Homo sapiens: one gene and its partners. The protein of the gene in region 7 interacts with the protein of the main gene of each other region in a pairwise test. Each region holds a gene or a part of one and is shown on either strand. Other genes may lie near its edges. The genes, in order: ARB2A, GTPBP3, COL1A2, CUTC, SMARCB1, COX14 and MESD.

Region 1 (3,500 bases), on a different chromosome or scaffold from region 7:
TTGTCACATTAATTAAATTGGCAATCTGAAATATCTAAAGGATAAAATATTTTCTAAATAGTTTGGGTGTTTAAATAGAAGCATCCATTGTTGAAATCTAAATGATAACAAATCTTCAATTGATTTATATAGTGGTGATTTAAAAATAGAATCATTTCTCATCTGTTGATGCCTAAGGGAAACATTGACATTGTGCCTTTATGATATTGAACAGATGAGTCATGTAATTTTCAGTTACTTAGACAAATACTGCTTCTTTGATGATATATAAATGCCTTTTTTAAAATACTTATTTACATGGAACATATCAAATTTCAGAGTCTTATTTCAAATTAAGTAGGCACGATAATTTTTCAATCTATGATTTCTAAAAATTGAAGTTTAAAGTTCTGCTCAAATAAGCCAGATATGAAAATATTATTTTTTTGATTAAGTAATAAGATAATAGTCTTACAATTCTGGTGACTGTAAATTTTGTTCAAAGAGTTTACCTTTATTTGAGATTTATTCATTATACAAAGATGATGCCATGTTATTTCAGCTTATTAAAGTCCCACTCTTTTACCTTGAGTGAAGTTTTTGAATTTGAAATTTTTCATATTATCATTAAAATGTAGTATATCACTATTTTCATCTCTACTAATTTTAAGATTCTATTTTGGTCTTGCTAATTTTAACTCCTGAGTATGAGAGGGTGGTGTGTGTGTGTGTGTGTGTGTGTGTGTGTGTGTGTGTGTGTATGTGTATGTGTATGTGTGTATGTGTGTTTAAAGTTCAATTCACTCAGAGAAGGCAAGGAAGAAACATGACAGGAGACCACTTACTCACGGTACAGAATCTAGTAGGGAGGCAATTTTCTTTTTGGCCTATGGTGACCTTTTTTGACTATGTTCCTTACACCAGAGACAGTGTACTGAATGCCTCTATTTCACCCTGTTTAGCAGAGTGCAACAGTGTTCTTTAACTTACTTTTGGTGGGAGGAGAAGTTATAGCTGAAATTTGAGAAGGGCGTGAAAAGTTGTAAGAGGCACAAGGAAGAGGGGTAGGAACTTCCTTCAAATGTGATTTTAATAACTAGTCAAGTGTGTCCAACTGTAGAAAATCACCAAGTGACAATCTGTCTACCTGACAGTGATCACAATGAATTACAAGACTTTTGAATAGCTATACAGATTAGAATAAAGCAGGACCAAATAAAATATCTTTTGTTGGTAAAACTTTTGACTTAGAGCTAAGAAACTTTAAAAAAAATTCTCTTTTGCTTTGATGTAGAAAGTTTAAATTACAGAATGTGTAAAGTGTTTTATAAGCTTTTTGTGAAAGAAGCATTATTCTAAAAGCTTTATTTGAACATCTGTTGAAGAATGGGTGGTGGTTTGTAAATCAGTTTGCTATATATTATTATATAGTTTCCATATATGTAAGATGACTGTATCTTAATTAATAGTCCTATCATTAAAATCAGAACTTCAGTGATCTTGAAAATTTCCAAACTAAATAATCGTTTTAGACAATAATATCATCTGATGGAGGAAAAAATAGAAAACAATTCCAAAGAAGTTTGTAAGTAGTTTGTGAAATCAACTGTTTAAAAAAACCAACCATGTGCAGTAATGCAGCATATTTTAAAATAAGATAATTGAGTCTGTGCTATTACTGGTTTACTATTACTGCTGTCAATTTTTTAAAATCATCTTATGGTTGGTTTGGCAAAAAATTTAAAATTTAAACTTCAAGTAGAAGATTCTACAGTTACTGTCTTGAAAAACTATATATACTACCTATTTTAAGTAAGGATGAGATTTTATAAGTTTTATTTTCTATTAAATAGATTTTCTAATAAATAGATTTTGTGAGCTATTTTCTGTAGCTCTTATGTTTTTATTATAATATCATACATCTTTTAAATATGACCTTATAGTATTTTACAAGGACATAATTGGAACCTCACAACACATAACTGAATAGAAAAGACAAGATATATAATAGCTTCAAAAATTTGTGTTACCCATGCTTGTCAATGGTTATTGTTTATCCCTCTCTATATTTTCTCATGGTTAGCTTATTCCATTAGACATAATATAAATATCAAACGTTTTCTTAATTATAACCACAGAAATGTTTGCCAGGCTAGAAAGAAATGAGACAGGAAAACATGTTTTACAAATTTAAAAAAAAAAAAGCCTTAATAGCTCAACAAGCTGTATTTTTTAACTTTGGAACCTTGCTTATTTCCTGATTATAGTTTTTAATAAAGAGAATTTTTATGGTAGGTTGAAAAATGAAAGAAATTTTAAGATTAAAGACTTGCTTCCATACATTATAGTAAGACAGTGGCTTATTTTGCTACATGATTTTTCTGGCCTCCTGTGAGAAACAAAGTGAATAAAATTCAAGGTACACAAGTAGATGTTATGTCTTTATAATAATGTAGGTATGGATGGTTTTGTAATGTTAAATCAGATTTATTCTTTTTTAACTGCTTATTCTTTTTAATTGTTCAGACAAATAAAAAATGCTCTTGAAAGGGCCATTGTAAAGAAAAATATACAAAAAAATGTAGTTTGAATTGTAAACTTTGATTTCAGAGGTTGTTTTCTCAAAACAGATAGTATAAATATTAATATAATTTGAAAGTTTACTTGAAAATAAATTATTTGCTAATTTATTTCAGTCATTTTTGGGTTCTGAGATATCTGAATTAGTTTTTTAATTTAAGCTTTATAATCTTTATGTTGCAATTATATTTTTTGTTCTTATAAATAATAAAAGCTTATTTATATACACAATAAAGGCAAACAATTTTAAATGACTTTCTTTTGAAAAAAATAAAATCATTATCTTGCCTAAAGGAGTATTTTAATGAATATGCAACTATATAAAAATTGCTTAGACTGAAATTTTAAGAACTTTTTTGAAAATTGAAATGGATTATAAGATTTAAATTATGCTACCTTCTTTCATTTCAAAACAGGAAGGATATGGAGTAATAGTACTAAATCCCAATGAAAACTATATTGAAGTAGAAAAGCCGAAGATACACGTACAGTCATCATCTGATAGTTCAGATGAACCAGCAGAAAAACGGGAAAGAAAAGATAAAGTTTCTAAAGAAACAAAGAAGCGACGTGATTTCTATGAGAAGTATCGTAACCCCCAAAGAGAAAAAGAAATGATGCAATTGTATATCAGAGTGAGTGAGATCACTACTTTCCTTTACTATTTTCTTTACCTTGTATATATTTTATTATATGTAGATTGTTTTGTTTTTCTTCAAGAATATTAATTTTTTTATTTGTCATCATTTATTTCCCATAGTCGTCTACTTGGATTAAATGGGTTTTTAAATTCAGAATTACAAAACGCATCATTCTTATTTCAGTGTGACATTTTATAGAAGTCACAAATGCAAATTCTGTTTCCTTTTGTGTCATATACTACCTCAAGAAAAATTTTCTAAAATAATTTTATTGTGATGGATGCAGAAGGCAGAAAACTT
Region 2 (2,679 bases), on a different chromosome or scaffold from region 7:
TGTGTCTGGTCCTTCTTGCTCTGCCCCGCCACTCATGGTCGCCCCACTCCAGTGCTGTACCCGGCCCCTTTTGCTCTGTCCCAGCCCCTGTGCTGTGCCCTGTCCCTCTTGCTCTGCTCTTCCCCCTGCACAGTGCTCTGCCCCTCTTGCTCTGCCCCGCCCTCCTGTGCTGTGCCCCGCCCCTCCTGCCCTGCCCTACTCACTGCACTGTGCCCAGCCCCTCCTGCTCTGCCCCGCTCCCGCACCGTGACCGCTCCTCTTGCTCTGCCCTTCCCCCTGCACTGTGCCCCGCCCCTCTTGCTCTGCCCCACCCCCTGTGCTCGGCTTGGGCCCCCAACATTCTGCCGGTCCCCTGGTACTCTACTCCTCCCTCCCGACCTCACGCTTCGCAGCTCCCCCAGTGCTCTGCCTGGCCCCTCTAACTGTCCCTCCACCCAGTGCCTTCAATTGCTCAACCTGGGATCCCCGCTCAGTTGACCTTGCTCCCGCAGGCTAGAGCAGGCTGACCTCATTCTGGCCATGCTGGATGCTTCTGACCTGGCCTCTCCCTCCAGTTGCAACTTCCTGGCCACCGTCGTAGCCTCTGTGGGAGCCCAGAGCCCCAGTGACAGCAGCCAGCGCCTCCTCCTGGTGCTGAACAAGTCGGACCTGCTGTCCCCGGAGGGCCCAGGTCCCGGTCCTGACCTGCCCCCGCACCTGCTGCTGTCCTGTCTGACGGGAGAGGGGCTGGACGGCCTCCTGGAGGCGCTGAGGAAGGAGCTAGCTGCAGTGTGAGCCCCCTCCCACTCCCAGCCTCCCCTGACCCACAGTTTAAGTGTGGGTCCCTCAACTTCAATTTCTGAACCTACAAAATGGGTACAACCATTTCCCCTTCAAGGGATGGTTGTAAAAGGTCGGGAGAGACCATGTCTCTTGTCTCTTCCAGGTGTGGGGACCCGTCCACAGATCCCCCGCTGCTGACCCGAGCAAGGCACCAGCACCACCTCCAGGGTTGCCTGGATGCCCTCGGCCACTACAAGCAGTCAAAAGACCTGGCCCTGGCGGCAGAGGCGCTGCGGGTGGCCCGGGGTCACCTGACCCGGCTCACAGGTGGAGGGGGTACCGAGGAGATCCTGGACATCATCTTCCAGGACTTCTGTGTGGGCAAGTGACGGGATCCAGGGAAGTCGCACCCAAGCTGCGTGGAGACCCAGGAGCCTCGGGGGATCTGGAAACAGTTTAGGCCAATTGGGATTCTCATTCGCCTGGGAAAGAACTTGATTCTCAAATAGTGAAGCAACACAGCTGAGAGGTAGTGAGATCCCTGCAGGGACTCCCTGGAGATTCAGGCCCTGGAATGGGGCTGAATGGAGGTCCCGTTCGACCCTTGATGCTGGGGCATCCGGGTTGGGATGGAGATAGGAGGATCTCAGTATATTTGTTTCGTAGTTTTTTATTTATTTTGCAAATACCAAAGGAATGTAAAAAAAACTCAGGTGATCTAGAAGTGTTTATTTTCTTCCCTTCCCTTCCCTTCCCTTTCCTTTTCCCTTTCCCTTTCCCCTTCCCCTTCCCCTTCCCCTTCCCCTACCCTTCCCTCCTCTGTCTATTGCCCAGGCTGGAGTGCAGTGGTGCGACCTTGGCTCACTGCAACCTCCATCTCCGGGGCTCAAGCGCTTCTCCTGCCTCAGCCTCCTGAGTAGCTGGGATTACAGGCATGTGCCAGCATGCCCGGCTAATTTTTTTCTTTTTTTGAGACAGAGTCTCGCTCTGTCACCCAGGCTGGAGTTCAGTGGTGCGACCTCGGCTTACTGCAACCTCCACCTCCCGGGTTCAAGTGATTCTCCTGCCTCAGCCTCTTGAGTAGCTGGGACTACAGGCGCACACCACCACGCCAGGCTAATTTTTGTATTTTTAGTAGAGACAAGGTTTCACCATGTTGACCAGGCTGGTCTTGAACTCCTTGACCTCAGGTAATCTGCCTACCTTGGCCTCCCAAAGTGCTGGGATCACAGGCGTGAGCTATCACACCTGGCCCCAGAAGTGTTTCAACATGGAAATTTTCCTTAGCCCTTCTGTGGTTGTCATGGCTTAATGTGTGTCTTTCCAGAACTTTGAATGTTTGCATACTTGTGGATGTACCTTTCAAATATGTTTGTCTTGTGTATCATATATAAATGGTATTGTGTTCATTGCTCTACAAATTGTCATTTCTTTTTAAAAAAAAAACAGAATTATGGAGATGGGGGGTCTCACTATGTTGCCCAGGCTGGTCTTGAGCTCTTGGACTCAAGCCATCCTGCTGTCTTGGCCTCCCAAAGTGCTGGGATTACAGGTGTGAGCCACGGTGCCTGGCCTCATTCCTTTTTTAGTCTTTAGTCTTCTTTTTTTTTTTTTTTTTTTTTGATGGGGTTTCACTGTGTTAGCCAGGCTGGTCTTGATCTCCTGACCTTGTGATCTGCCCACCTGTGGCCTCCCAAAGTGTGTGTGTGTGTGTGTGTGTGTGTGTGTGTGTGTGTGTGTGTGTGACAGAGTCTTGCTCTGTTGCCCAGACTGAAGTGCAGTGGTGTGATCTCAGCTCACTGCAGCCTCTGCCTCCTGAGCTCAAGCCATTCTCGTGCCTCAGCCTCCCGAGCAGCTGGGATCATAGGTGTACCCTACCACACCTGGCTAACTTTTGTATTTTTAGTAGAGATGGGT
Region 3 (3,500 bases), on a different chromosome or scaffold from region 7:
TAAGTCTTCTGGTTAAGGTTTCTGGGAAAAAAAAATAGCAAAGATGTTGATTTCTTGGAATCCTTTTACAGGTTCATAACAGAAAAATCTTCATTCCCTGTAGGCATTTAATTAAACCTAGTTGAGAAGTGTGTGGGATTCCTCAATTATGAACAAAACACGTATATTGGCTTTCTTTAAAAAAAAAAAAAAAGAAGAAAAAAGAAAAGGCAAAGTCCTTCGAAACTCAGAGTCCCATTCATTTATCATTAACTCCTATCATTCTACATAGTTCTGATTCCAATATGCCAGGGTACCAGTGGCATGACATTGTTTTTCCTCATAGAAATTTGCCATAGTCTCTCCTCCATTATTTGGTTGGTTACAGCCTCATAAAGGAAGACAGGAGTTGCTTCTTTCTGCAAGAAAGAAGGTTAAAAACTATAAATATTTCCCCCAAATGGCCAGGGTATTATTTTATTGCATCACATTGTTTGCATCTTAAGATCTAGAATCTTTGCTGCTCTCTTCCAGGCCCTTGGTGATTAACAGAAAGGAAATGACCTTGTACATTTGCTCATAGGGTATTTCTGGCCCTCCTGGTCCCCCTGGTCCTGCTGGGAAAGAAGGGCTTCGTGGTCCTCGTGGTGACCAAGGTCCAGTTGGCCGAACTGGAGAAGTAGGTGCAGTTGGTCCCCCTGGCTTCGCTGGTGAGAAGGGTCCCTCTGGAGAGGCTGGTACTGCTGTAAGTGATTTCCAACTCCTCTTTCTTAATACCTTATGCTGAATTAAAATAAAGCCCCTACACAAATCTTCAAGTGGCATCTATTTGTTGATGAGTATTGCAGGCTCTCAAGTAGAGCTCAGTTGAGCCAGGAAATCTGTCCAGCACACACTGAGGGGCTGTGGCTTCCAAGATGCTCAGAAAGCACAAAATCGGGAAGACAATAAATGAGGGAACTCAGTTTTATCACAAAGCCCTTAAAGCTATTGAAGGCACCTTACTGGTACCAGGATTAGAACAGAGTCCCATTGCTGTGGCCATCCTACTACATATTAATCAATCTCAGTAGGCTACCAATTTCTTAAACATACACTGTCCAGTATTAGTGCTACTCTGAAAGGTGCCCCTATTAGACCTTAGAGGCCAAAGTCAAAATTTGCTTCCTTTTGATATACTGATTTTACTGATTTCCTTTTTGTTTTTGTTTTTTGTTTTTGTTTTTGTTTTTTTGTTTTGGGATGGAGTTCCCCTCTGTTGCCCAGGCTGGAGTGCAGTGGCACGATCTCAGCTCACTGCGACTTCCGCCTCCCCAGTTTAAGTAATTATCTTGTCTCAGCCTCCCGAGTAGCTGGGACTACAGGCACACACCATCATGCCTAGCTAATTTTTGTATTTTTAGTAAAGACGGGGTTTCACCATATTGGTCAGGCTGGTCTCGATCTCCTGACCTCAGGTGATCCACCCACCTTGACCTCCTAAAGTGCTGGGATTACACATGTGAGCCACCCCACCCAGCCTGATTTCCTTTCCTTTGTGTATATACCCAGCAGTGTGATTGCTGGATCTTATGGTAGTTCTATTTTTAGTTTTTTGAGGAACCCCTCCTACTATGTACAACTATTATGTATCCATAACAATTTAAATTTTTTTATTTGTTTCCCTGCCTAGAGGCTATAAAAACTCTATTTCACCACCCCAAGTGTCTTTATAAATCTCAACCACATATTTTTAAATGTTGTGCCATTGGTCTCAAGGATGAATCAGATACAAAAGTATTCATGCCAAGATGTAAACTCACCGTCATCACTAGAGAAAAGATATCCAAGGATATGTCCTAGTAATAGGAGGTCATTAGCCTTTTTCTAAGCTGAAGACAGTTTATTCTCACAATCTTCAAGCCAACCTGTGTTATCACCTAGGGTCTTACCCATAATACTCAGTATTTTTTCTCTATTTAGGGACCTCCTGGCACTCCAGGTCCTCAGGGTCTTCTTGGTGCTCCTGGTATTCTGGGTCTCCCTGGCTCGAGAGGTGAACGTGGTCTACCAGGTGTTGCTGGTGCTGTGGTGAGTGCTTGACAGTATTCTGACTCCATTAACATAAGAAAAGATTTTAAAAGCTGCCACTTCAAATGTGACAGATTGATCACTGAATAACTTCACTTAAGATTTTTATTCATGGCATTTTCTTTATACAGATCACATGTCACTTATCTAAGAAGCTTTAATACCACCTTACTTAGACACACACTATAAAGACACAGCTTAAAATTATGCAGAATGATTTTTGTTCTTTCCACGCACTTAGGAATGATACAATCTCTAATTGCGTTTACTCCTCTGCAATATGAAATGCTGGCATCATTTATCCTGTAGGAAGAATGAAACTCTGGAAGTTCTGAATCGTTCCATTAAACCTTATACGTGACAACAACTAGAAACCATCTCATCTCCATAAAATATATCAACTTTTTGAATTCATTTCATTTGGGATACTGAATGACACGAGGCTCACTTTTTACAGAGCAACATCCCGTGATTACATAAAGCTGGCCATCTACATGTGGAGAAGGAGGGCAGAGATGATACTAATGATACTTCTTACCATTGTGTGACCCATTCACATTCAATTTACCTTCTTCCTTCAAACTAGAATCTCCTGAGTAGGGTTGTTTTGGAGGGGAAGGTTAGCATTCCATCGAATAAGGGGAATGTCATTTTATCTTCTCTGCCTGTTTAGGGTGAACCTGGTCCTCTTGGCATTGCCGGCCCTCCTGGGGCCCGTGGTCCTCCTGGTGCTGTGGGTAGTCCTGGAGTCAACGGTGCTCCTGGTGAAGCTGGTCGTGATGTGAGTCCAACACTTGGTTTGTAAAATAAAACTGAGCAGGATTTCATTGTGTGAAACTTTATGTCCTGAGCTGAGGTTCTCTTCTTCCAAATTTCTGAACAAGATGGTCAGCTTCTCCATAGTATCTACACCTAGTACTGAAAATATGAAAATTGCTTAGGCCAAAGAATGGGCTTTTCAATAGCACACTGCAAAACTGGGCCCAAGTATTTAAAACATCTCTAAAAAATATCTAGGTTGGCAGGTTTTTATCCCTAGTTTTAACAGTCTGAAAGAGGGTTCGTTACTGAGCACTGGAAGTGATGAAGACAGAGTAGCTACAACATAGGGGCTGGTAGGCAGCAGAGCCTCACCAACAGCCTTAATTTGTGTGGTGTCTTCACAGGGCAACCCTGGGAACGATGGTCCCCCAGGTCGCGATGGTCAACCCGGACACAAGGTCAGTACACTTTTCATCTTTCTCTAATTCAAAAGTGATTAAAATGCAACCCAGATTGATGCTAAGCTTCATTTTGCCTTTGGTAGGGAGAGCGCGGTTACCCTGGCAATATTGGTCCCGTTGGTGCTGCAGGTGCACCTGGTCCTCATGGCCCCGTGGGTCCTGCTGGCAAACATGGAAACCGTGGTGAAACTGTAAGTTTGTGAATACCAGTCCCTCAGTGCAGCATTC
Region 4 (3,500 bases), on a different chromosome or scaffold from region 7:
ACTTCCTGTTGCATCACATCAGGAGGACATAACATGTTGGTTTTTTTCTGTTTTTGTGATATTAAGATTGAACAGGGAGTTCAGGTATTGCCAGCCTAATCTATCCTTAAGGTTTTCTGTCAGCTTTTCACCTAATAAATTTAGCAACCCATATTTTAGTAGGGGTTGCAAAATGGTGACATTTATTTTTCACTTATGAACTAGAATAGTTCTGTAAAGAACTTTCCCTCATCCTCTGTTTGGTTATGCTGAAGTATGGTTTGTATAAGAAAGGCAGAATAAATGCTTGCTTATTTTCCCTTATTTATTATAATACTTTTTAGAATAATGAATTTGTTCTCTGTCTTCCCTTGAATTGTTTTGTCATTATGAATGTAGATTTAGATATATTTTGTGTGTTTTAATCCATTGTAGTTATTCTGCTTATTGATGAACAAAATGTTCTATCTTTGGCTAGTGAGAGCTTCTTCAAACTGGTTCCTGAGATCTTTTGATGTGACCTTGGTAGCCTAATAATTCTTTTGGTTTCAGCATTTTCTTATTCTTGAAATTATCTTGGTTTAGCTACTCAAAAGTAGCTTTGTGTTTTTTAAAGCTTAGAATAATAAAGACCCTTTTGGGAAATATTATGTTATTTTCTTATCAACAAAGACTCAGTATTCCACTATAGTCAGTTTTAAGAAACATCTTTATTCTATGTTACTTTCCTGTACATAGAGAGGCAACCCTATAATACAAAAATTTAAGAGAACTAGCTTAACTTTAATTAATTTTTAAATTTGAGTATGAGTAACACAATGTGGGCTGCAGAGTATAGCTGAGTTAAAAACAGAGTTTTACTCTAGCTTTATAATTTGATTTCTCTGAGATGATTTCTAAGACTGTTCTATATTTGGAAAAAATATATATAAACAGGTTGCTGTTTAATAACAGCTTATTTTTTAAAAATGTGTTGAGCAATGCTTTTATATTACAGGTGCTGATCGGATTGAATTATGTTCTGGTTTATCAGAGGGGGGAACTACACCCAGCATGGGTAAGTGTCCATTTTTCCCAGGTTTTCTGATTGGAGTTCATAGAGCCTGGAAGCAACTGATAATCAGTTTCGTTGGGGTCCTTTACTAATGTCATGTTAACTATGTTATGGATGTTGTATCAGAAATGTTTATGATTGTAAAAAAATCAAAGATTTGATCAAACATATTTCTTTCTCACATCAAAAAGTTGAAAGGTAGGTAGGTAATTGTTAATACCGGTTCAGCTGCTCTGTAGTAACATCAAGGATTAGGCTTTTATAAAATCTTTCCATGCTGGCATCCTTAGTATATTGAAATCCCCTCCTGGTCTTTGTGCTATTGTTGTCATATATTTTACTCATACATATATCAAAAACTCCATGCTGTATTGTTAGTTTTGTTTGAAGAGTCAATTATCTTTTGTTAAATAAGAGATTTAAATAATAAGAAAAAAATCATATATTTACCCACATGCAACTACCATTTCTGGTGTTCTTTATTCCTTTGTGTAGATCCCGTATTTCTGTCTGGTTTCATTTTCATTCTGCCTGAAGTACTTTCTTTAACTTTTTTTGTTAAAAAGTATGCTAGTGATTCATTCCTTCAGCTTTTATATGTCTAAAATAGCTTTTTCCTTCATTTTTGAAAGGTATTTTTGCTGGGTATAGAATTCTAGGTTGACAGGTTTTTTTTTTCTTTGAAGATGTTTTTCCATTGTCGTCTTGCTTGTATTGTTTCTGACAAAAAGCTATCATCCATATCTTTGTTTTTCTCTATGTAATATGTCTCTTTTTTCTACCTACTTTTAAGATTTTTTTATTATTGGTTTTGAACAATTTTCTTATGGTGTACCTGAGTATAGTTTTTTCATGTTTCTTGGACCTGTGCATTTATACTTCTCATCACATTTGGAAAATTTTCAGCTTGCAGCTTGTTCTCCACTCCCTCCTTTAGAGACTTAAGCTATTCTTACATTAGACTACTTGAAATTGTCCCAAAAGTCACTGATGAACTTCTCTATTTAAAAGAAAATCTCCTTTCTGTGTTTTCATTTTGCATAGTTGCTATTGTTTTGTCCTTGAGCTTACTGACCTTTTCTTCTGCACTATCTAATCTGCTATTAGTCTCTCCTGGTATGTTTTCATCTCATACATTGTAGTCTTCATCTGTAGAAATTTGAGTCTTTTTATGTCTCTGATGTCTCTTAACTTTTTTGAACATGTGGAATAAAGTTATGATAGCTGTTATAATGACCTTGTCTGCGAATTCTAACATCTATATCAGTTCTGGGTTTGTTTCATTTGATTTATCATCTAATAATATATCTTATTTTCCTGCCTTGTAATTTTTTATTGGATGCAAGACATTGTGAATTTTACTTTATTGGTTACTAGACATTTTTGAATTCCTACAAATGTTCCAAAACAGTTTGGTCCTTTTGGGTCTTGCTTTTAAGATTTGCTGGGCAAGTCTGGAGCAGTGGTTAATACAGAGCTAATTATTCCTTACTACTGAGTCAGGATTCTTCTGTGAACTCTACCCTGTGACCATGAATTTTGAAATTTTCCTGTCTGGCTGGTGGAATAGGCATTATTCACAGCTTGGTATGAATGACAGGCACATTATTTCTAATCCTTTTTATTGGTTCTGTCCCAGGCCTTGCGTAGTTTCTTTGCATGCATGCACCGGTCAGTACTCAGCTGAATATTAAAGGAGGTTCTCTGCAGACCTCCAGAGTTATCTGTCTTCCTTTCTTCTTTCATTCCTTCCTTTCCTTTCTTTTCTTTCCTTCTCCTTTTCTCTCTCTTTGCTTTCCTTCCTTCCTTTTTTTCTTTTGACAGGGTCTCACCTGTTGTCCAGGCTTGACTGAAGTGGTGTGACCATAGCTCCCTACAGCCTCAAACTCCTGGGCTCAAGCAATTGTCCTGCCTCAGCCTCTCAAGTAGCTAGGATTACAGGCATATGCCACCATGTCCAGCTACATTTGTTTGTTTGTTTGTTTGGTAGAGATGGAGTCTCACCATTTTACCCAGACTGGTCTTGAACTCCTTGCCTCAGGCAATCCACCCATCTCAGCCTCCCAAAGCACTGGGATTACAGGCATGAGCCACCGTACCAAGCCTATCTTTTTTAAAAAAAATCCTTTTTTTAAACCATTGAGATAGTCTTTGCTACTCCAGTGTTATCTTTCTGTCCTCCCTGTACTGTCTCCTATAAACTCTAGCTACTTCAGTCTTCCTGAACTCTAAGCTTTGTCTCCTTAACTCAGGGAATTGTTTTGGCTCCATGTGGGTCCCCCATCCCTGTGCTTTGGCCTAGAAACTCTCAAGGCAGTAAATTGGGTCAATCAGAATTGACTTACTAACTTCATTGTTTACCATTTTCAAGGATCATTGCCCTTCACTGCTTAATGTCCAGTGTCTTGCAAACCACTGTTTCATATATTTTGTCTGTTTTTTTATTATTATTATTATTATAGGTGGG
Region 5 (3,500 bases), on a different chromosome or scaffold from region 7:
TGCCATTAACAGACAGCTGTATTTACCAAGCCGGAGTCATGGAGCTTTGAGGACCCTAACAGATCCCCAAGTCCAGCACCTTGATTTTATATTCAGGAAACCTGGGTCCCAAGAGGGTGAAGGCTGGTTCAGAGGAAAGCCAGGAAGGCAAGCCCAGTTTCCTAAGTTCTGAAGGGGCTTTGGGGGGCATCTAGGAGACTCAGAGCCCTGCAGGGCCTGCAAGGTAGTCATAGGGGGGAGTATTGTCAATTTCTTTTAAAAAACCTAATGGAAACTCTACATTTACCATGATACTGGATGATACTGACACACAAGCCAAATAACATAGAGGGGTCTGTGCCCTCTATGTGGAAAGCGAGTGACTTGCTGTGTCTGCTCTTCTCTCAGCGTTCAGTAGCCCTGGTTGTTGATTACAGTCACTGCTGAAAATGGAGAAACATTTTATTTAATACTATGCCTGGGTCTCACACCTATAATCCTAGCACTTTGGGAGGCCCAGGCAGGAGAATCACTTGAACCCAGGAGTTTAAGACCAGCCTGGGCAACATAGTGAGACTCTTGTCTCTACAGATTTTTATTTTTATTTTTTTTAATTAGGCCGGGTATGTGGCTCACACCCGTAATCCCAGCACTTTGGGAGGCCGAGGTGGGCAGATCGCTTGAGCCCAGGAGTTTGAGACCAGCCTGGGCAACATGGTGAAACTCCGTCTCTACAAAAAATACAAAAATTAGCCGGTTGTGGTGGCAAGCAACTATAGTCCCAGCTACTCAGGAGGCTGAGGCAGGAGGATCGCTTGAGCCGAGGAGTTCGAGGCTGCAGTGAGCTATGATCGATCGCACCACTGCAATCGAGCCTGGGTGACAGAGCGAGACCCTGTCTCAAAAATAATAATAAAAATTAAAAATAAATTTAAAAATGCAAAATATATACTATGTTGCGTAGATAAAATGGGAAACATAATAGAAGTGGTCCTTCATGGGGGTGAAGTTCAGAGTTGCTGAGCATTTGGCAGATGAGTAAAGGGTACCCAGAAAATGGGAAGTGATCCCAGGTTACAGATGGAGCCAGCACCTGGCACCCAGTCTATTGGCCATCCCCTGCAATGTGACTCCGAAGTGATCATACTTGAAAAGTCAACGAGACAATAGGGTACCCTCATAAAAACTTTAGGTCTAGATTTATTTTCCTTAAGGAAGTCACACTTTCAGTATTTGCTACAAGCAAACTGAAGCCATTGTTTGAGTCAGTGATGATTTATATAGCAGTCTGGTGATTGCCTTGTAAACCTTTTGGAAAATTCCTTTGGTATCCCTGGTTTGGGTTTTGTTACTAAACAAAGCAACACAGGCCATGGGGGAAATTATCTGGCATCTGTCTAAAATTAAAAGACCTTTTTGGTGTTTATTACATTGTAAAGATATCAAAGTCTTGTCCTTAAGATAAAAGAAGGTCAAGGAGGCCTTGCATTTCTGGAAAGTGCCAGAGATCCTTAGTCCAAAATCAAAATCACCACGAACTTCTTGCTAAGCTCTGGGGGCCTCCCACTCAGGCATCTGCCCAGGCCTTTCGGAACTTGGTTCTGTTGTCAGGATGCACATATGCAGGCCAGATGTGCACTGCTGGTGAACCCTTCATATCAGCAGAATGTGTTTTAATGCTGCCGAAAGCGTGGCGCCTGGGGGCCACCTCAAGGCCTGTTTGTCTGTTGCTTGATGCAGTCTGCGCCAGGACCCTCCCCTTCCCTGTGGTGCTGCGACCCTTATAATGAGCCTTCTTGCTTTACTCATAGGTGGGAAACTACCTCCGTATGTTCCGAGGTTCTCTGTACAAGAGATACCCCTCACTCTGGAGGCGACTAGCCACTGTGGAAGAGAGGAAGAAAATAGTTGCATCGTCACATGGTAAAAAAACAAAACCTAACACTAAGGGTGCGTCTTCACGAGGGTTTGTAAACCTGTTTCAAAACCACTCGCTTATGTCATGAAGATAAAACGTTTTCACTCCAGAGTGTCTTCACTGCAGCCTTGGCCTTAGTCGGGCAGGGAGCATCCCGGGGTGGGCCGCCCTGTGAGCACTCCAGGCAAGGAAGTGGCTCCAGGGAGCCATTGGTGGTCCACTGTCAGTTATTTCCAGCAGGGCCATTGGGTATGTGAGCGGGCCGGGGCCAGGACACTAGCAGGTGCTGTGAAGACATGTTGGTCTCAAAACGTTTTAGGAATGCTGCGATGCTCTGCCATCTGTCGTGGGTGTGTCGCCATAATCATCTTCCATGCAGCCCAAGTGGCGGGTGGTGGTCCCAGCTCCCACTCCCCTCTGGGGCTTTCACTGCTTGCTTCCTGGAGCACATCCATCCCATAGCACTTCATCCTGGCAGCCAGTGTGCTAGAGCCCATGTGCATGTCCCTGCTCCTGGTGGCCTGCGTGTGCCTGGGGCTTGCTAGGTACACTAGTGAAACTAGTGGGCTTTGGGTCACGGCAGCTCTGTGCAGGGTGAAAGGGTGCTCTTCAGACACTCTGGGGGCTCTGTGGGAGACACTCCCATGGAGACATTTGGGTGTGGACACAGCATGTCCTTGGGCAGGTGGCAAAACTGCTTCCCACGTGGCAATGGCGCCTTGTAGAGAGCTGCCCTGGGCCTGGGTGTGTCTGTGAGCATGTGCGCGATGCTTCGTAGTCTGCCCTGTTTGTTTGTGTCTGTAGGTGCTGCTGTGGTTTTGTCCACTGCGGGAAAGTAGTGGTTCTTTTAATGCAGGAGCCGGAGCTTCTTTTTGATCTGCTGCTATGACATTTCCACTCACTTGCTTAAAACAGTTTCCTTTTTGTTCCCCCTCCTCCCCTAGCAGAGCATCAGTCGCTAACACAGTGAGTCCCCAGCTTTGCTTCCCCCTCCGCAAGTCCCTGGGCTAAGTCTTGGGAGATACCTTCCCCATAAGCGATTGATTTCTCCAGGAGAAGCCAGACTGGGCCCACAGACAGGTAGCTCTTGACGGAGATTCCCCGGAAGAGCTAGGGGTCGAGCTGCCTAGAATCTGTCCTGCTTCCCAGGCAGCACGTGTGGACCGGCTCGGGGATAGAAATTCGTGTTTGGTGTGAAGCAGCTCTTTCCAACTCTCTGGGCTCTTGTTTTAAAAGAAAAGTATTCTTCATCTTCCATTCCATCTCCCCACCTTGCATCGTGTTGTGGATTGTGGTGGTGTCAGACCTCTTCCCACTGGGGTGTTACTCTGGGAGCTTTCTTTTCCCCTGAGTGAGGACCAAGAGAATATGTTCTGGAGTCGAGTGTCCCCGCTGGTCGTGCTGTATTGTAGTTGCTGGTGCTGCCCTGAGCACTTCCCTCTGCCCCGAGCCAGTGCTCCTGGGGCAGATTAGTCCAAATCAGTCCCATTGGAGGCTCTACCCAGCAGGACTTGTAAGTAAAGCACTCAGTCCAGATTGCCCTTTTGGAAGAGGCCAGCATTCAGCAGTAGTAAGTTTGACACCTTGCTTTTCCCACCTCCCG
Region 6 (2,859 bases), on a different chromosome or scaffold from region 7:
ACGGAGTCTGGTTTTGTTGCCCAGGCTGGAGTGCAGTGGCGCGATCTCTGCTCACTGCGAGCTCCGCCTCCCGGGTTCATGCCATTCTCCTGCCTCAGCCTCCTGAGTAGCTGGGACTACAGGCACCCGCCACCATGCCCGGCTAATTTTTTTGTATTTTTACTAGAGACGGGGTTTCACCGTGTTAGCCAGGATGGTCTCGATCTCCTGACCTCGTGATCCACCCGCCTTGGCCTCCCAAAGTGCTGGGATTACAGGCTTGAGCCACCGCGCCCGGCCGAGCATCTTCATTTTAACGTGTTCAAGCCCAGCTCATGATCCTCCTTTTTTTTTTTTTGAGACAGGGTCTCCCTGTCACCCAGGCTGCAGTGTAATGGCATGATCTCGGCCCACTGCACCTCTACCTCCTGGGCTCAAGCGATCCTCCAACCTCAGCCTCTTGAGTAGCTGGGACTACAGGTGCATGCCACTACGCCCCACTAATTTTTGTATTTTTTGTAGAGACAGGGTTTCACCATGTTGCCCAGGCTGGTCTCAAACTCGTGGGCTCAACGATCCGTCTGTCTTTGCCTCCCAAAGTGCTGGCATTACAGGTGTGAGCCACTGCACCGGCCACGTGATCTTCTTGATGGACACTGTCACCACCCTGTATATACAGTGATACATACCTCTTCTCTTGTTTCTTATTTCTGTTAACAGTATCCCAGTCTACAAAGTTTCCTAACTTGGAGGTATTAATATTTTCAGCTTTGCCCTAATTCGCTCCATTGATAAATCCTTTTCTACTTCCAAAGTATCTTCTGCATCTGTTCTTTCCACTTCTACTGCTACCACTGCTTTAGCTCAGAATCTGAAGAGTTTTTTTTTTTTTTTTTGAGACAGAGTCTTGCTCTGTCCCCCATGCTGGAGTGCCGTGGCACTCTCTTGGCTCACTGCAACCTCTGCCTCCCAGGTTCAAGTGATTCTCTTGCCTCAGCCTCCTGAGTAGCTGGGGCTACAGGCATCCGCCACCACGCCTGGCTAATTTTTGTATTTTTAGTAGAGACAGGGTTTTGCCATGTTGGCCAGGCTGGTCTCGAACTCCTGACCTCAGGTGATCTGCCCGACTCAGCCTCCCAAACTGTTGGGATTATAGGCGTGAGCCACTGCGCCCGGCCTGAAGAGTTTTTGCTAATTGGATATTAGGGAAAACCACAGGATGGATTAAGACAAGAGAGGGAAGGTAAGGTTCTAGACAGCAGGATTATGTCTGTTAGTTGGTTTTATGTCACTTTTCTAGCCAAGCTGTACCATCCTGTTTTTGTTGGTTGGTGAATGCTTCCAGCTCTTTTCCTCCAGCCCTTGGAAGAGGTGGTCCTATAATTGTTAAGCATCTAGCTAGGGTGATGAGTAGGAATAGCAATAAGTGACAGGGAAGTTGAAGGCTGCAGGGCTCTTTGCAGGCGGCTTAGCGTTCAGCTCCATGGGTGTGTGTTTTGTTCACTATTGCATGCACAGCTTGGGGCCATTTCAAACCTCAGATTTCAAACCTGAACACAATCCTTTCTCATCTTGAACTTGTGTCACTTAGTATTCTTCCTCTGACCTTACTTAATATCACTTTCCATAGTGGGATTATATTTCAAAGAAGCTGTGTCTCAGCTCAGCTTGGGGTCCACACTCAAGACCTGCCTCAAAGGCAATGTTCAGCCCTTAGGGTTTACTCTGAGAAGTATTTACATGTCTGTACCCATGTCTGACCCCTCTAAACCAGCGAATCCTGAGCTTTACTTTCAATTTTTTTTTGTTTTTTGAGACAGGGTCTCACTCTGTCACCCAAGCTGTAGTGCAGTGGTACGATCTCAGCTCACTGTAGCCTCAACCTCCTGGGCTCAAGCAATCCTCCCACCTCAGCCTCCTGAGTAGCTGGGACTACAGCCATATGCCACCATGCGTGGCTAATTTAAAAAAAAATTTTTTTTGTGGGGACAGGGTCTCACTATGTTGCCCAGGCTGGTCTCAAACTCCTGGCCTCAAGTGATCCTCCTGACTCGGCCTCCCAAAGCATGGGATTACAAGTGTGAGCCACCATGCCCTGCCTAGGTTCTTGACTTTGTTGTTTGTGTGTATGCTTTGGTGTGTGTGTGTGCGTGGCCATGGTAAGGGGCGGGATTTTAAGTGTCTCTGCCTACAGTGCTGAGAGCCATTAAGTGGAGAGCAAGCTGCCAAAAACTAAAAATAGGGCCCTCTTAGGCCTCACTGGCAGGCTTATTGGGCCCAGTTCTCTCAAGGCTCCTCAGGACTGGGTCCAAAGGTCCTTGAGACATTCCCCTCTTGGCTTCCACCCTGGCACTCTTTTTCTGTCTCTTTTTTTTTTTTTTTGAGACGGTGTCTCACTCTGTTGCCCAGGTTGGAGTGCAATGATGCGATCTCGGCTCAACTGCAACCTCTGCCTCTGGGATTCAAGCAATTCTCCTGTCTCAGCCTCCGAGTAGCAGGGACGCAGGCATGCACCACCACGCTGGGCTAATTTTTTTTTTTTTTTTTTTGAGATGGAGTCTTGCTCTGTCACCAGGCTGGAGTGCAGTGGCACGATCTCAGCTCACTGCAGCCTCCGCCTCCGGGTTCAAGTGATTCTCCTGCCTCAGCCTCCTGAGTAGCTGGGACTACAGGCGCGCACTGCCATGCCCAGCTAATTTTTTGTATTTTTAGTAGAGACAGGGTTTCACCATGTTGGCCAGGATGGTCTCGATCTCTTGACCTCGTGATCCACCTGCCTCAGCCTCCCAGAGTGCTGGGATTACAGGCGTGAGCCACCATACCTGGCACCCCCCCTTTTTTTTTTTTTGAGATGGAGTCTCACTCCCCGTCATCCAGGCT
Region 7 (3,500 bases):
TGGGTATACATGGAGTGCAGATTTTAAGTATACAGTGCAAAGAGGGAGTATTTCTTTTCTTTTTTTTTTTTTCTTTTAAGACAGGGTCTCGTTCTGTCTCCCAGGCTGGAATGCAGTGGCATAATTATAGCTTACTGCAGCCCTGATCTCCTGGGCTCAAGTGATCCTCGTGTCTCAGCCTCCTGAGTAGCTAGGACTACAGGCACCTGCCGCCACACCTGACTAATTTTTAAATTTTTTTTAAGAGATGGGATCTCACTATGTTGCCCAGGCTGATCTCAAATTCCTGGGCTCAAGCAATTCTCCCACCTCAGCCTACTGAGTAGCTGGGACTACAGGTGTGCCTCACTGTAGCTGGGACTACAGGTGTGCATTGCCATACCTGGCTACTTTTAAATTTTTTTTTAGAGACAGTCTTACTGTGTTGCCTAGGCTGATGTCGAACTCCTGGCCTCAAGTGATCGTTTTACCTCAGCCTCCCAAAGTGCTGGGATTACAAGGTAAGCCACAGTGCCTGGCCTGCAATAAATTTTGATAAATGGATATATCTGTGTAATCTACACCCCTGTCAAAATGTAGAACATTTTCATCACCCCAGAAAAGTTCTCTTGTGTCCATTCTCAGTTAATCCTCCCTTGTCCCCCCTTCTACAGGCAACACTGTTCTAATTTCTGTTACCCTAGATTAGTTTTGCTCATTCTTGAATTTTAAATAAACGGAATTGCATAGTAAATCTTATTTTGTATCTGGCTTCTGTCACTTAACATTTTTGGGATTTGTTAGATGTATCAGTATTTGTTCTCTGTTGCTGTGAAGTATTTCATTGTGTGACCATACCAGAATGTGGCCATTTTTACAGCCTACCATGTTGGGTAGATTGTATGAGAGTTTAAAAGCTCTAGAAACCCATCACATGGGGGCGCTCTGTGATTGGTAACCTGGGTGTGGGTAGTATGTGCTGCCTGAAACTTAGACTATCTTGAAAGTTAAGAAGAGGAAGAAAACCCCTGGTTTTCCTTTTTATGTTGTAATTTAAGTCATATACATGCACCTGACATCATGCAGAAGTTTTTGCCTGTGCCAGTTGAAAAGCAAGATTCTGATGATAGGTTTGATGCTTTTCCCCTAATCTGATAGAAAGATGATGACATTGAAGAAGGAGATCTTCCAGAGCACAAGAGACCTTCAGCACCTGTCGACTTCTCAAAGATAGACCCAAGCAAGCCTGAAAGCATATTGAAAATGACGAAAAAAGGGAAGACTCTCATGATGTTTGTCACTGTATCAGGAAGCCCTACTGAGAAGGAGACAGAGGAAATTACGAGCCTCTGGCAGGGCAGCCTTTTCAATGCCAACTATGACGTCCAGAGGTAAAGCAGCAACAACCAGCTGAGAGACTCATAGGCTGTGCTCGGTCTTTTCTTTATTATTATTATTAATTATGATGATGATGATGATTTTTTTGAGACAGAGTTTTGCTCTTGTTGCCTAGGCTGGAGTGCAGCGGCGTGATCTCGGCTCACTGCAACCTCCGCCTCCCTGGTTCAAGCGATTCTCCTGCCTCAGCCTCCCGAGTAGCTGGAACTACAGGCGCCCGCCACCATGCCTGGCTAATTTTGTATTTTTAGTAGAGACAGGGTTTCACCATGTTGGCCAGGCTGGTCTTGAATTTCTGACTTCAGGTGATGCACCCGCCTCAGCCTCCCTAAGTGCTGGGATTACAGGCGTGAGCCACCACACCTGGCCCTGTGCTGGGGCTTTTCCTGAGGCTCTTAACAGGGTGTCCTTTCTGGCCGTATTTCCCAAGGGCCTCTGCCTTTCCTTTCTAGGTTTTCTTTTAAAATTATTTATCTATCTAGTTTGTTTTTTTTTTTTTTTTTTTTGAGACGGAGTCTCACTGTGTTGCCCAGGCTGGAGTGCAGTGGCGCAGTCTCAGCTCACTGCAAGCTCCGCCTTCCCGGTTCACGCCATTCTCCTGCCTCAGCCTCCCGAGTAGCTGGGACTACAGGCACCTGCCACCACGCCCAGCTAATTTTTTGTATTTTTAATAGAGACGGGGTTTCACCGTGTTAGCCAGGATGGTCTCAATCTCCTGACCTCGTGATCTGCCTGCCTCAGCCTCCCAAAGTGCTAGGATTACAGGTGTGAGCCACTGCACTCAGCCTATCTAGATTTTTTTAATGTAAAGAAGAGCGTTGCCGGGTGCAGTGACTCACTTCTGTAATCCCAGCACTTTGGGAGGCTGAGGTGGGCGGATCACGAAGTCAGGAGATCAAGATCATCCTGGCCAACGTGGGGAAACCCTGTCTCTACTAAAAATACAGAAAAATTAGCGGGGCATGGTGATGCACGCCTGTAATCCCAGCTACTCCAGAGGCTGAGGCAGGAGAATCGCTTGAACCTGGGAGGCAGAGGTTGCAGTGAGCCGAGATTGCGTCACTGCACTCCAGCCTGGCGGCAGAGCAAGACTCCATCTCGGGGAAGAAAAAAAAAAAAAAAGGGCATTTATTGTTGGTAAAAGCAGTTAAGTTTTTGTTTTTATTTTTTGAAGAGGCGAGGTCTCACTATGTTGCCCAGGCTGATCTTGAACTGCTGGCCTCAAGTGATCCTTGCACCTCAACCTCCCAAAGTGCTAGGATTACTGTCACTGGCAACCATGCCTAGTGTGTGTTTTTTTTTAATATCTCAGTTGATCCTAAAGTTTTATTTATCTTTGGATCTTTAGCTTTTATTTCATCTGAACAGAAGGGTGTATAGCTTAGTTTAGACTCTTTGAGGGACAAAGTTAATAGTTTGACAGCTTCAGCTAGAAGTTTCTGCTCAGTGGAAAGTGCTTTGTGTGTAGCTATGTTCACACATAGAGCTTGGACCATGCTGTTAACCGATAACTAATTTAGTATGAAGAGGCTCAGTTTTCACACTTGAGTATGGTCCTGAGGTACAATTTTAAGAAATCTGCTTCTTTTTCCTCAAAAACAGTTCTGAAATTTGGGGTCTGCAAATATTCTGGTTTAGGAAATATAAAAGCAATGACAAGAAATGGGAGGAGTACTTAGAGAGTGTCCGGCCAGCAAAATATTTTCAATTAGCTTAAATAGACACCTAGACAGAACAAATAAATGTCTTGGTGATGTCTGCTCCAGAAGGCCCACTGGTCTCTGTGGAGTGGTGGGAGCATTAGAAACTGAAGGGGGAACGCGTGGTGTAGTCCCTAAGGAACAGAAGAATCTTGCCCGCTGGCCACACTAGGGCTCCACCCAGGCCTCATTCTTTCCGCTTTGTTCCTTGGGACCTTTCGAGTGTGGACGAGCTGGGCAGCTTGCTGCTAAGCTCAAGGGCTAGGATTTTTGTCCAACAACCAAGTGTCCTCTTGAGTCCTTCATAGCCTCTTATCATGACCCACTCTAAGCCATTGGTTTTCCACCTTTATCAGCAGAAGTCTTTTGTCCCATAAAAGTGTAACTGGACACTCTAGAATATAAAACAGATACAGATCAGAT

Evidence for each region.
Region 1: the proteins of MESD (region 7) and ARB2A interact in binary tests that used the Homo sapiens proteins (3 or more experiments, as listed by UniProt).
Region 2: the proteins of MESD (region 7) and GTPBP3 interact in binary tests that used the Homo sapiens proteins (3 or more experiments, as listed by UniProt).
Region 3: the proteins of MESD (region 7) and COL1A2 interact in binary tests that used the Homo sapiens proteins (3 or more experiments, as listed by UniProt).
Region 4: the proteins of MESD (region 7) and CUTC interact in binary tests that used the Homo sapiens proteins (3 or more experiments, as listed by UniProt).
Region 5: the proteins of MESD (region 7) and SMARCB1 interact in binary tests that used the Homo sapiens proteins (3 or more experiments, as listed by UniProt).
Region 6: the proteins of MESD (region 7) and COX14 interact in binary tests that used the Homo sapiens proteins (3 or more experiments, as listed by UniProt).

The regions. Positions count from the first base shown.
Region 1 is NC_000005.10:93,881,164-93,884,663, reverse strand, and holds part of ARB2A (cotranscriptional regulator ARB2A isoform 1 precursor), read left to right. Parts: intron 1-2,975; coding exon 2,976-3,194; intron 3,195-3,500. UniProt on the Homo sapiens protein: Plays a role in the regulation of alternative splicing, by interacting with AGO2 and CHD7. Seems to be required for stabilizing protein-protein interactions at the chromatin-spliceosome interface. May have hydrolase activity.
Region 2 is NC_000019.10:17,340,553-17,343,231, forward strand, and holds the end of GTPBP3 (5-taurinomethyluridine-[tRNA] synthase subunit GTPB3, mitochondrial), read left to right. Parts: intron 1-491; coding exon 492-770; intron 771-925; coding exon 926-1,151; 3' UTR 1,152-2,179; downstream 2,180-2,679. UniProt on the Homo sapiens protein: GTPase component of the GTPBP3-MTO1 complex that catalyzes the 5-taurinomethyluridine (taum(5)U) modification at the 34th wobble position (U34) of mitochondrial tRNAs (mt-tRNAs), which plays a role in mt-tRNA decoding and mitochondrial translation.
Region 3 is NC_000007.14:94,422,395-94,425,894, forward strand, and holds part of COL1A2 (collagen alpha-2(I) chain precursor), read left to right. Parts: intron 1-562; coding exon 563-724; intron 725-1,941; coding exon 1,942-2,049; intron 2,050-2,722; coding exon 2,723-2,830; intron 2,831-3,215; coding exon 3,216-3,269; intron 3,270-3,355; coding exon 3,356-3,463; intron 3,464-3,500. UniProt on the Homo sapiens protein: Type I collagen is a member of group I collagen (fibrillar forming collagen).
Region 4 is NC_000010.11:99,738,734-99,742,233, forward strand, and holds part of CUTC (copper homeostasis protein cutC homolog), read left to right. Parts: intron 1-976; coding exon 977-1,036; intron 1,037-3,500. UniProt on the Homo sapiens protein: May play a role in copper homeostasis. Can bind one Cu(1+) per subunit.
Region 5 is NC_000022.11:23,789,966-23,793,465, forward strand, and holds part of SMARCB1 (SWI/SNF-related matrix-associated actin-dependent regulator of chromatin subfamily B member 1), read left to right. Parts: intron 1-1,790; coding exon 1,791-1,929; intron 1,930-3,500.
Region 6 is NC_000012.12:50,115,236-50,118,094, forward strand, and holds part of COX14 (cytochrome c oxidase assembly protein COX14), read left to right. Parts: intron 1-2,859. UniProt on the Homo sapiens protein: Core component of the MITRAC (mitochondrial translation regulation assembly intermediate of cytochrome c oxidase complex) complex, that regulates cytochrome c oxidase assembly.
Region 7 is NC_000015.10:80,979,820-80,983,319, reverse strand, and holds part of MESD (LRP chaperone MESD precursor), read left to right. Parts: intron 1-1,137; coding exon 1,138-1,370; intron 1,371-3,500. UniProt on the Homo sapiens protein: Chaperone specifically assisting the folding of beta-propeller/EGF modules within the family of low-density lipoprotein receptors (LDLRs).